2 separate regions of the Homo sapiens genome follow, and region 1 is linked to region 2. The links come from fine-mapping of genetic effects on gene expression. A gene starts in region 2. The other region holds a variant in brackets. All regions are shown on one strand. Distances are from middle to middle.

The links. PIP is the estimated chance that this variant, and not a neighbour inherited with it, causes the effect.
Region 1: its variant is fine-mapped to the expression of GFPT2 in cerebellum (GTEx, PIP above 0.99). The same link has a PIP of 0.9 or more in cerebellar hemisphere.

The regions. Positions count from the first base shown.
Region 1 is chr5:180,421,360-180,426,732 of GRCh38, forward strand. No RefSeq gene overlaps it. Among named protein-coding and RNA genes, the nearest start is that of CNOT6, 70 kb to the right of the region's middle. RefSeq lists an enhancer at 2,482-2,981. The variant C/T (reference allele first, on the strand shown) is at 2,149.
Region 2 is chr5:180,350,254-180,355,626 of GRCh38, forward strand. GFPT2 (glutamine-fructose-6-phosphate transaminase 2) reads right to left here and starts at 3,083. Exons shown (of 19, transcript NM_005110.4): 1 at 2,958-3,083. The coding sequence starts at 2,964. RefSeq lists an enhancer at 1,237-1,737 and a silencer at 3,110-3,339.

The DNA.
Region 1 (5,373 bases), 71 kb after region 2:
TGTTTATTTCACCTGGGTGCAGGCGGGCTGAGTCCGAAAAGGGTCAGCAAAGGGTGGTGGATTATCATGGTTCTTATAGGTTTTGGGATAGGCGGTGGTGTTAGGAGCAATGTTTTGCAGGCAGGGGGTGGATCTCACAAAGTACATTCTCAAGGGTGGGGAGAATTACAAAGAACCTTCTTAAGGGTGGGGGAGATTACCAAGTACATTGATCAGTTAGGTTGGGACAGAAACAAATCACAATGGTGGAATGTCATCAGTTAAGGCTATTTTCACTTCTTTTGTGGATCTTCAGTTGCTTCAGGCCATCTGGATGTATAGGTGCCGGTCACAGGGGATATGATGGCTTAGCCTGGGCTCAGAGGCCTGACACACATGTGTGCAAGTGTCTTCATAACAGAATGATTTATAATCCTTTGGGTATATACCCAGTAATGGGATCGCTGGGTCAAATGGTAATCCTGGAACTTAAAGTAAAATACCAAGTAATAAATAAATAATATATAAATAATAAAATAGAAATAATAAATAACATATAAATAATAAATAAACTATAGCATTACCTGGTGGGGCTCCTAATGCAAATAGATACAACACATAAGACAACTACGGTGTAAAAGGAGAGGGTGTGGTGAAGGTCTTTGTATTCTATTTAAAGTCAAAATGTTGATTCTGAGCAGACAGTGAAAAGTTGTATATACAAATCACAATCCCTAGTGTGATCACTAAAAAACATGCAAAGATACATATCAGAAACAGGCTGGGCGCGGTGGCTCACATCTGTAATCCCAGCACTTTGGCAGGCTGAGGCAGGCAGATCAGGAAGTCAAAAGATCGAGAGCTACTCGGGAGGCTGAGGCAGGAGAATCACTTGAACCTGGGAGGTGGAGGTTGTAGTGAGCCGAGATGGCACCACTACACTCCAGCTTGGCAACAGAGCGAGACTCTGTCTAAATAAATAAATAAATAAAATAAAAAAGATATATGTCAGAAGCATATAGATAAATTAAAATGGAGGCCAGGCGCAGTGGCTCACGCCTGTAATCCCAGCACTTTGGGAGGCCAAGGCAGGTGGATCACCTGAGGTCAGGAGTTCGAGACCAGCCTGACCAACCTGGAGAAACCCCATCTCTACTAAAAATACAAAAATTACCCAGGCGTGGTGGGCACGCCTGTACTTCCGGCTACTCGGGAGGCTGAGGCAGGAGAATTGCTTGAACCTGGGAGGCAGAGGTTGCAGTGAGCCGAGATGGTGCCATTGCACTCCAGCCTGGGTGACAAGACAGAAACTCCATCTCAAAAAAAAAAAATTAAAATGAAATATGAAAAAATTCTCAAATAACTGAAAAGATGGTATCTTCAGGCTGATAACCACACTGTCTGGATCATTGTAAGTTTAAAAGTCCTGAAATCTGGTATGGGTTAGTCCTTCATTGTTCTCAAAAGCTATCTTGGCTGTTGTAGGTCCTTCACATTTCCATAAGAATTTTAGAATCACCTAGTCAATTTTCACTAAATAGCTTCCTGGGATTATGACTGAGATGGCACTGAATCTGTAGATTAACTTTGGTAGAGCAAACATCTTAGCAATAGAGAATCTTCCAGCACATGAGTGAAGTATATCTCCCCATTTATTTAGATAGTCTTTAATTTTTCTCAGATATGGTTTGTAGTGTGAATACACAGGCCTTTCACATATTTTCTCAGATTTGTCATATTTTAATGCTATTTTAAATGATGTTTATCTTTAACTTCAATATCTCATTTTTCAATCCTGATATGTAGAAATATAATTAATTTTGTATATTTATTTCGAACTCTGCAATCTTGCTAAACCCAGTTATGAATTCTAGTAGGGTTTTTTTTTGTTTTGTTTTGTTTGTAGATTTCATCATAGTTTCTCCATAGGGGATCATGCCATCTGTGAATAAAACCATTGTTTTTTTCTTCTTTCCCAATTTGGATGACTTTTATTTCTTTTTTATGCCTGACTGCACTGGCTAGAGCCTCCAGTGCAATCCTGAGTGGAGGTGGTGAGGGTGAATATTTTTGCCACATTCCTGGTTGTAGGAAAAGGTATTTAGCCTTTCAGTATTAATATTATGTTAGCTGGAGGTTTTCCATACGCTCTTTACCAGGTTGAGGAAG[C/T]TCCCTAGTTTGCTGAAACTTGTTTTTTATCAGGAGTAGATGTTGGATTTTGTCAAATGCTTTTTCTTTAATTGATTGAGGTGATTATATGATTTTTCTTTTTTAGTTTCTTAATATGGTGTACTAGTTTCCTATGGTAACAGATTACCACAAACTTGGTGTCTTTAAAACACAAAAATTGATTCTCTCATGGTTATGGAGGCTAGAAATCTGAAATCAAGGTGCCAGCTGGGCCATGCTCACTCAAAGCTCCAGGGAAGAACCTGCCTGCTGTTTCCAGCGTCTGGTGGCCCCAGGCCTTCCCTGGGTAATGGTGGCGCAGCGCTGATCTCTGTCTGCCTTCACCTTCACACGGCCCTTCTTGTTTGCCTCTGTGGTCACTTCTCTCCTTACAAGGACACCAGTCATTGGACTTAGGGACCACCCTAAATTCCGGACAGTTTCATCTGAGATCCTTAACTAATTACATCTAAAAAGACTATTTCCAAATAAGGTCACATTCTGAGGTTCTGGGTGGAAATGACCTTTTTTTTTTTTTTTTTTTTTTTGAGACATGGCCTCGCTCTGTTGTCTAGGCTGAAGGGCAGTGGCACGATCACAGCTCACTGCAGCCTCAAAGTCCTGGACTCAGGCAATCCACCTGCCTCAGCCTCCCAGGTAGCCAAGACCACGGGTGCATACCACTACACACAGCTAATTTTTAAATTTTTTGTAGAGGCAGCATCTTACTATGTTTCCCAGGCTCATCTCAAACTCCGGGCTCAAGCGAGCCTCCCACCTCAGGCTCCCAAAGTGCTGGAATTACAGACATGAGTCACTGTGCCCGGCTGACACACAGTTGTTTTTTTTTTTTTTTTTTGAGACAGAGTCTCGTTCTTGTTGCCCAGGCTGGAGTGCAATGGCACAATCTCTGCCCACTGTAATCTGCACCTCCTGGGTTCAAGCAATTCTTCTGCCTCAGCCTCCCTCGGGAGGCTGGGATTATAGGCATGTGCCACTACACCAGCTAATTTTGTATTTTTAGTAGAGATGGGGTTTCTCCATGTTGGTCAGGCTGGTCTCGAACTCCCGACCTCGGGTGATCCACCTGCCTCAGCCTCCCAAAGTGCTGGGATTACAGGCGTGAGCCACTGCGCCCAGCCAACATACATTTTTGAGGGACACTAGTCAACCCACTAAACATGACATATTTTATTCGATTTTTGAATGAATGCTAAGCCAAACTTGCCTTCTTGAGATAAACCCCTATAGGTCATAATGTATTAATCTTTATAAGTTAATCTTTATAAACTTTTCTTTAAAAAATTCATCTATATTCATTAGAGATTTTAGTCCTTAATTTTCTTTTCTTGTAATGTCTTTGGATGATGATAATTATTATTATTTTGAGATGGAGTCTCACTCTGTCTCCCGCGCTGGAGTTCAGTCGCAGTATCTTGGCTCACTGCAAGCTCTGCCTCCTGGGTTCAAGCAATTCTCCTGTCTCGGCCTCCCAAGTAGCTGGGATTACAGGTGCCCGCCACCATGCCCAGCCTTGTCTTCGGTTTTGATATCAGCATAATAGCAGCCTCATAGAAATAGCTGGGAAATATTCTCTTCACTTCAATTTTATGGATTTGTTTGTGTAAAATCGTTATTATTTCTTATTTAAATGTTTGGTAGAATTCCCCAGTGAAAGCACCAGGGCCTGGAGTTTTCTTTGTGGGTGAGTTTGTAACTACGAATTTAATTTCTTTAATAAACAAAGTGCTACTTAAGTTATCTGTTTCTTCTTGAGTCATTTTTAATGTCTGTGGCTTCCAAGGAATTTGTGCATTTAATCTAGGCTTTCAAATTTATAGACAATATGTCTTTCTTTCTTTCTTTTTTTTTTTTCTTTTTTTTTTTTTTTTTGAGATGGAGTCTCACTCTGTTGCCCAGGTGGGAGTGTAATGGTGCTATCTCAGCTCACTGCAACCTCCACCGCCCAGGTTCAAGCAATTCTCCTGTCTCAGCCTCCCGAGTAGCTGGGATTACAGGCACCGACCACCACGCCTGGCTAATTTTTGTATTTTTAGTAGAGACGAGGTTTCACTGTTGGCCAGGCTGCTTTTGACCTCCTGACCTCAGGTGATCCACCCACCTCAGCCTCCCAAAGCCCTGGGATTACAAGCGTGAGCCACTGTGCCCGGCCTATATATATATATAATATATATAATATATAATATATAATGTACATATTATATATAATGTATATATTACTTATAATGTAAATATTATATATATTTTATATATATTTTGAAACTGAGTCTCGCGCTGTCTCCCAGGCTGGAGTGCAGTGTAGCGATCTCGGCTCACCGCAAGCTCCGCCTCCCAGGTTCACACCATTCTCCTGCCTCAGCCTCTCCAAGTAGCTGGGATTACAGGTGCCCGCCACCACGCCCGGCTAATTTTTTGTATTTTTAGTAGAGACGGGGTTTCACTGTGTTAGCCAGGATGGTCTCGATCTCCTGACCTCGTGATCCGCCCGCCTCGGCCTCCCAAAGTGCTGGGATTACAGGTGTGAGCCACCATGCCAGTCCAGGTCTCGATTGTTTTATAATATTACTTCATCATCCTTCAAATACTTGTGGAATTTGTAGTACTATAATCTCTTTCATTTCTGCTCTTGAATTTGTATCCTCTCTTTCATTCTAATCAATTTGGCTAGAAGTTTACCAATTTTATAGGTCTCTCTTTTTTTTGTTTTCAATTTTATTGATTTCCTCTTTGATTCTTTTTTTTTTTTTTTTTTTTTTGAGACGGAGTCTCGCTCTGTCGCCCAGGCTGGAGTGCAGTGGTGCTATCTCTGCAAGCTCTGCCTCCAGGGCTCACGCCATTCTCCTGCCTCAGCCTCCAGAGTAGCTGGGACTACAGGCGCCCGCTATGACGCCCGGCTAATTTTTTGTATTTTTTAGTAGAGACGGGGTTTCACCCTGTTAGCCAGGATGGTCTCGATCTCCTGACCTCGTGATCCACCCGCCTCAGCCTCCCAAAGCCCTGGGATTACAAGCGTGAGCCACTATGCCCGGCATATATATATATATAATATATATATTATATATAATGTATACATATATAATGTATATATCACATATAATGTATATATTATATATAATGTATACATTATATATATATATTTTATATATATTTTGAAACTGAGTCTCGCACTGTCTCCCAGGCTGGAGTGCAGTGTAGCGATCCCGG
Region 2 (5,373 bases):
GACTCCAGGTTGCTCATCTTCAGATTTTGTCAAGAGAAGCCAAAACTCCCACCTACTTATGTGAAATCTCCCAATTTTGTACTTTGGTAACTAATAGAGGAAAAGGTTTAAACCCTGTGCACCAAACAAAAAGATGTCTGTCTTCCCTGTTCGGCCAGTACTCTACCAGGCTGTAGCCCGTGCTCAAGGTCCTCCCTCCACAGCAGCACTGCCCTGATCGGCATCCCGTCCCTGCTGGTGACCAGTCTCTGGACTAGCCCTGCGGCTCACCTGCCCCTTCTTTGAGGGGAGGACCACACCCATGAGATCTTCGAGTCCCCCAGGGCCTGGAAAACACTGGGCATTTCCACTAGTGGCTGAATGAAAAAGGAAGCAGAGAAGGAAAGGAGAGAGACAGGGAGGAAATATTGTAAATTTTCTGTCGCAGAAAGTCAGCAAAATGCCAGCAACTTTCAGATGTCAATAAAACCAAAGTGTCATTTCAGCTAAATTCTCAGTGCACTGAAAGTTTTTGAGAATCATCTGCTGTTTGTAGAGGATCAACTACTGCCGAGTCCTGGCTTCCCATGAGAGAAGCAGCAGGATAAAGGACAGCAAGACATAATCTCAGCAGTGTCATCAGCCAAGTGATAAGGAAGGGCCTTAGGTCTCCGCCCCTGAGGGAACGGCCCAGGAGATCTGAGACCCGAGGCCTGCTCAGACGCCAGGTGCGCACAGACTTCGCAGGGCCTCAGCTTCCCCAGCGTAAAGTGAAGAGCTTATCTGGTTCTTTCTAGGAGCATCTTCACGATTCTTGCAGTATCCTTGTACTAATAGCATAATCACTACTTTTTCTTCTGCAGAATTTGATTAAATTTTCAAAAATTTAAATGAATTCATGCCAAAAGAAAACAACCATAAAAGGAAAATCAGTATCACTTGTCATACATACTCAGACCATCATCCCCCCCAAACAGACCAATGTATTCAATTCTAGCCAGCTGCTGCTGCCTGCTCTGAGCCAGGAATGGCTTCCCCTCTGCACAGGATACTTAAGCAAGTGTCAGAGAGATGTTAAGGACACGTTAGCACCAAGTTGAAACTTTCTCCTGATGTTCTTGAAAAGGAAATAACTTTCCCATGCAGGGATTCCACGACTTCCTGCTGAGCTGTGCCCTCCCCACTTCCCCCACCCTGCCCCCAGCCCCAAATCAGCAAATCTGGGAATTCTGAGAAGGCACCTAAGCCAGCACGCACTCTTTGATTCTGGCTCCGAGTGGGCACCCCCATGGACCGCAGCCACTCCTGAGCCCTGGGTGTCCTTTGGGGACCTCAAGCTCCTTCTCACATACAACCACAAGTCAGTACCAGAAAATCTGAAGATACAGGTGGTCACACCCCAAAGCTCAACCTTTCCCTAGGAGACAACGCGTGTGTGTCCCTTTAAGAAGCAGAACAAAAACACTTGTGATTTTGTGAGCTGGAGGAGGTAGAGCCCCCCCAAAGCTCAGAGAGACTTGGGAAAAAGCAAGATGCCAGTAGGAAGGAGGATGACAGGCAGGGGTGGCAGTGGGGGCAGAGGAGCATCTGAAAGGAAGGGGAAGGGGAGCCTCTGGTGCTGTGGGCAGACCCTCCTGGTTCAAGGGTCTCCTGCACAAGTCTGGCCCCAAGGCCACCAGTTTTGGCCAAGGGTCTTGAATGCTACACTGAGAGGTGTGGAACATCAGGGCTTGGACATCTGGCAAAACTACCACCTTTGCCTCATCTCTGCCCCCAGAAACACCCAAAGGTGGCTCTACACATGGAGAATGGCGTCTGGGAGCACGAGATTTTAGCTGAGGGTTCAGGAATTTCCACGGATGCCTGTTCAGCCTGGGTGAGGCGGCATCCCGAAGCACGCTGCCCGCTCCGCCGTAGGTCGTTCCCTTCTGCCGAGCAGCTGGCCTCCGAGACAAGAGGCCTGCACAGACCTCGGCCAGGGCTCACCGCGGGCGCACCCCACCCCGGCCCTCAGCAAAGTCAGAGAGAGGCCTTTCATGGCTTCGAAAGTTCCTCCAGGTCCTCCAGCCACAGGAGGCTGGAATGGGTAACCGAATCCTACTCAAGGAAAAAAAAAAAAAAAAAAAAGAGCACAGTGACCTTTTGTCCCAGCAGAAGTTCCCGGCTCTCTCCCGGCCAGCGGAGGCGGCCCAGCCAGGAGAGTAAAGAATTGCAGATGTGCGCTCCGGGCCGCGGCCGCCCTCCCCACGGTCCCGCAGCCACGCGGGACAGCGCGGGAGCGCCGCGGGAATCGGACGCCCGGCCCCGCTCCCCGCCCCGGACTCCCTCTCGTGGCTTCGGGCCGAGGTTCGGGCAGTGACTGCCTCTTCCCCGCGCAAAGAGGCGGTAACGCGGCAGCGACCCTTCTAGGGACCAGACGTTCCTTTGGGGTCGCGAGGAGGACGCGCAGGCCCTGCCTGAGGCACTGACGCAGCGGGGGCGACCGGGCGGGCTGCGGGGACGGCGGGGCGGGGTCGCCTCTCCTCTCCTCGGTGGGCGCGGCGGGCTGAGTCGGGATGGGCGCCCCGCACTCGGGATGCGCCGGCCTGCGCGTGGCCGCCTTTGTGGGCGACTGGGAGACGTGGAGGAGAGCGACCTCGGTCGGCATGGGGTGGGGACCCCTCTGTTACGGGGTCCAGGCCGGACCGGACCAGGTCCCTCCCCTCCGTGGGGACCGGGCCTCGGTCCCCCTCACTGTGTCCGAGACCAGGAGTCGGGTTGGGCATCCCCCACCCACACCTCCGAGACGGCCACTCGGGGAACGCGGGTGAGGGGCAGCCAGGCCCGGCCGACGACAGCCCCTCGGTAGGGGCCCGGGGCAGATCGGCGCCCCCAGCCAGGTCCTCGGCGCCTGCTTGCGGGCGGAGGCGCGGAGAGGCTGCGGCGCCGGGACCCGCGGACGGCGTGGAGGAGGCGGCTCGGGCGGGCGCGGCACTCACCGCACATCGTGGCTGCTTCTCGGGCTCCTTCGCGGCTCGAGGGGGTCTGCCCGTTCGGACGCTGGGGCTCCTCCGTGGGCTCCTCCGTGGGCTCCGTGGGCTCCGTGGGCTCCGCGGGCTCCAGCTCCCGTCCGCTCGGCCTCCAGCCCTTATAACCCGGAGCCCTCCGAGAGGGCGGGGAAGGGGGCGGGGAAGGGGCGGGGCTTCCCCCGCCCGCCTGCTCCCATTGGCCCCCGGTTGTCGTGACAACGACGGGACCCGGCCCCCAGGAGCCAGGGAGGGGGGCCGAGGGGCGGCTCCCAGGCGCGGGTCGGGCGTGTAAGGCTGGGGCGCCGGGCGCCAGATCCCGGAGCGGGGCTTAGGGCAACCAACGGCCCGAGTTCAGACCCCGACTCAACCAGAGTAGGCGTGGAAGCCGGGCAGGGCCCGATCGCGCTGTGCCTCCGCTTTCCCGTCTGTGAAACGGGGCTACCCAGGGAAGCTCCCTCCCACGGGGTGCTGAGAAGTCAGACGGGCCGCGTAAGGGGCAGAGCGAGGGGTCCGGCATCACTCGCGCGCTCCGGAAACCCGCGTGAGCCGCTGTTCCTGCCGCGCTCCCATCTGAGTGACAGGCTTGTTTCAGAGCTCCGCAGACCTCTAAGCCTGGCCCTCACCCTGCGTGGAGAGAACGCCCGGGCTTGGCGGAGAGACGAGAAAACCGAGGCTCCCGGAGGCAGACAAGGACTCTGCCAAAACCGGACGCCGCGGCGGTGGCAGAATTCGACCCTGGGATTTGCCGCGGAGCCCGAGCTTGAAGGCGAGGGTTCCGCAGGTTGTGAACGAAGCTGGAGGCGCCCCAGGAAGCCCCGACCCCACCCGCGCCGAGCTGCCCCCTCCCCAGATCTGCCTCGCGCTGCAGGCCCGCGAGGGACCCGGGGGTTCCTACGCCTGGGGTCGGAATCCGACCCCCCAGTGAGGCACCAAGGCCCGCGTTTCTCCGCCCTGGTTCCCGGCCGTCCCTCCCGTTCCCCCTGCACTCTGGGCCCCTCGTCTCCCGAGGAAGGTCACGAGAACCGGCCCAACGTTTGCGCACTTTGAAGTTTTTTTTTTTCTTAAAAAAATCCTGAAATTCTAAACGGATCCTCCTCAGTCGTGTAAAAAAAAAAAGATTTTTACATCTCGTCTAGAGCATTTTTCTAACATAATCCCTCCCTAGTTTCACCGCGACTCTGCAAGCCCTGGGGGAAGGAGGTTGTGCCATTGGAGGGTTGGGAAAACTGAGGCTCCACGACAGCGAAGGAGGGGGCTTGGGTGAGTCCTGTTGTTGGGAAATCTCAGAGCGATTCAGGAGCCGCAGCGTTTGCCCCCAACCCTCCACTATGCAGGGTCGCTTTCCTTCCTTCCTTCTCTCATTCCTAAGAACCCACTTCACACCTGTCAGGGTGCAGGTGCAAGAGACTTATTGATGAATGAGAACAGATCTGGCCCTGCCCTCCTGGCACTTACAAGTGAAGGGGAAGCAGACACTAAGCTCGTGGTTACACAGAGAGCTAAAAATTCCAGGTAGGATACAAGGAGGGGGCTGGGCCAGCGGTGGAGAGGGTGCCAGGCTCTGCCTGGGACTGGGCAGGGCTGCGCTGGTGCAGGTGGTCCAGAGCCTAGCGAAGCCAGGAAGGAGGGAGCAGCAGGCAGTGCAAAGGTCCCCTGGATGAGGGCTAGAACTTGAATGTGGAGATCAGGTTGTTTGGCCCAGACTGGCCTCCACTGTTGTAACTGAGGCGGGGACAGGGTGATGTCAACAGGCCCTCTGATAGCACCAAGACCCCAGGAGCCCTGGGGTCTTAGCAGGGTCCAAATCTGTCCTTTATCCTCCTGGAGGAGTCACAGGTCCACGGTGAGGAACGGCATGAGTGCACACTACCACCCATGGGGATGTGTCTGTAGCAGCTGCCGGCCTAGCATCACTCCTGCTTTGAGAACCCTCTGAGAGTCATCTGGGAGGTTGATGGCCTGGGCCTGGCCACACAGCCTGGGCAGTGGTTCAGAGGTCAGCATATGGCCCAGGCTGGGACGTTGATGACCTGCTCCAGCACATGAGGGAAACCAGCAGAAAAGATGAACTTGGCCTGGTACAGTGGCTTGGGTCTGTCATCCCAGCACTTTGGGAGGCTGAGGTGGGAGAACTGCTTGAGGCCAGAAGTTGGAGACCAGCCTGGGCAACAGGGAGACCCATCTTTACAAAAAGTAAAAAAAAAAAAAAAAAAAAAAAAAAAAAGCCAGGCACGCTGGGTGCAATGGCTCATGCCTGTAATCCCACCACTTTGGGGGGCAAAAGTTTGAGATCTTTGGGATTGCTTGAGCCCAGGAGTTCGAGACCAGCCTGGGCAACACAGCAAAACCCGTCTCTACTAAAAACACAAAAATTAGCCAGGTGTGG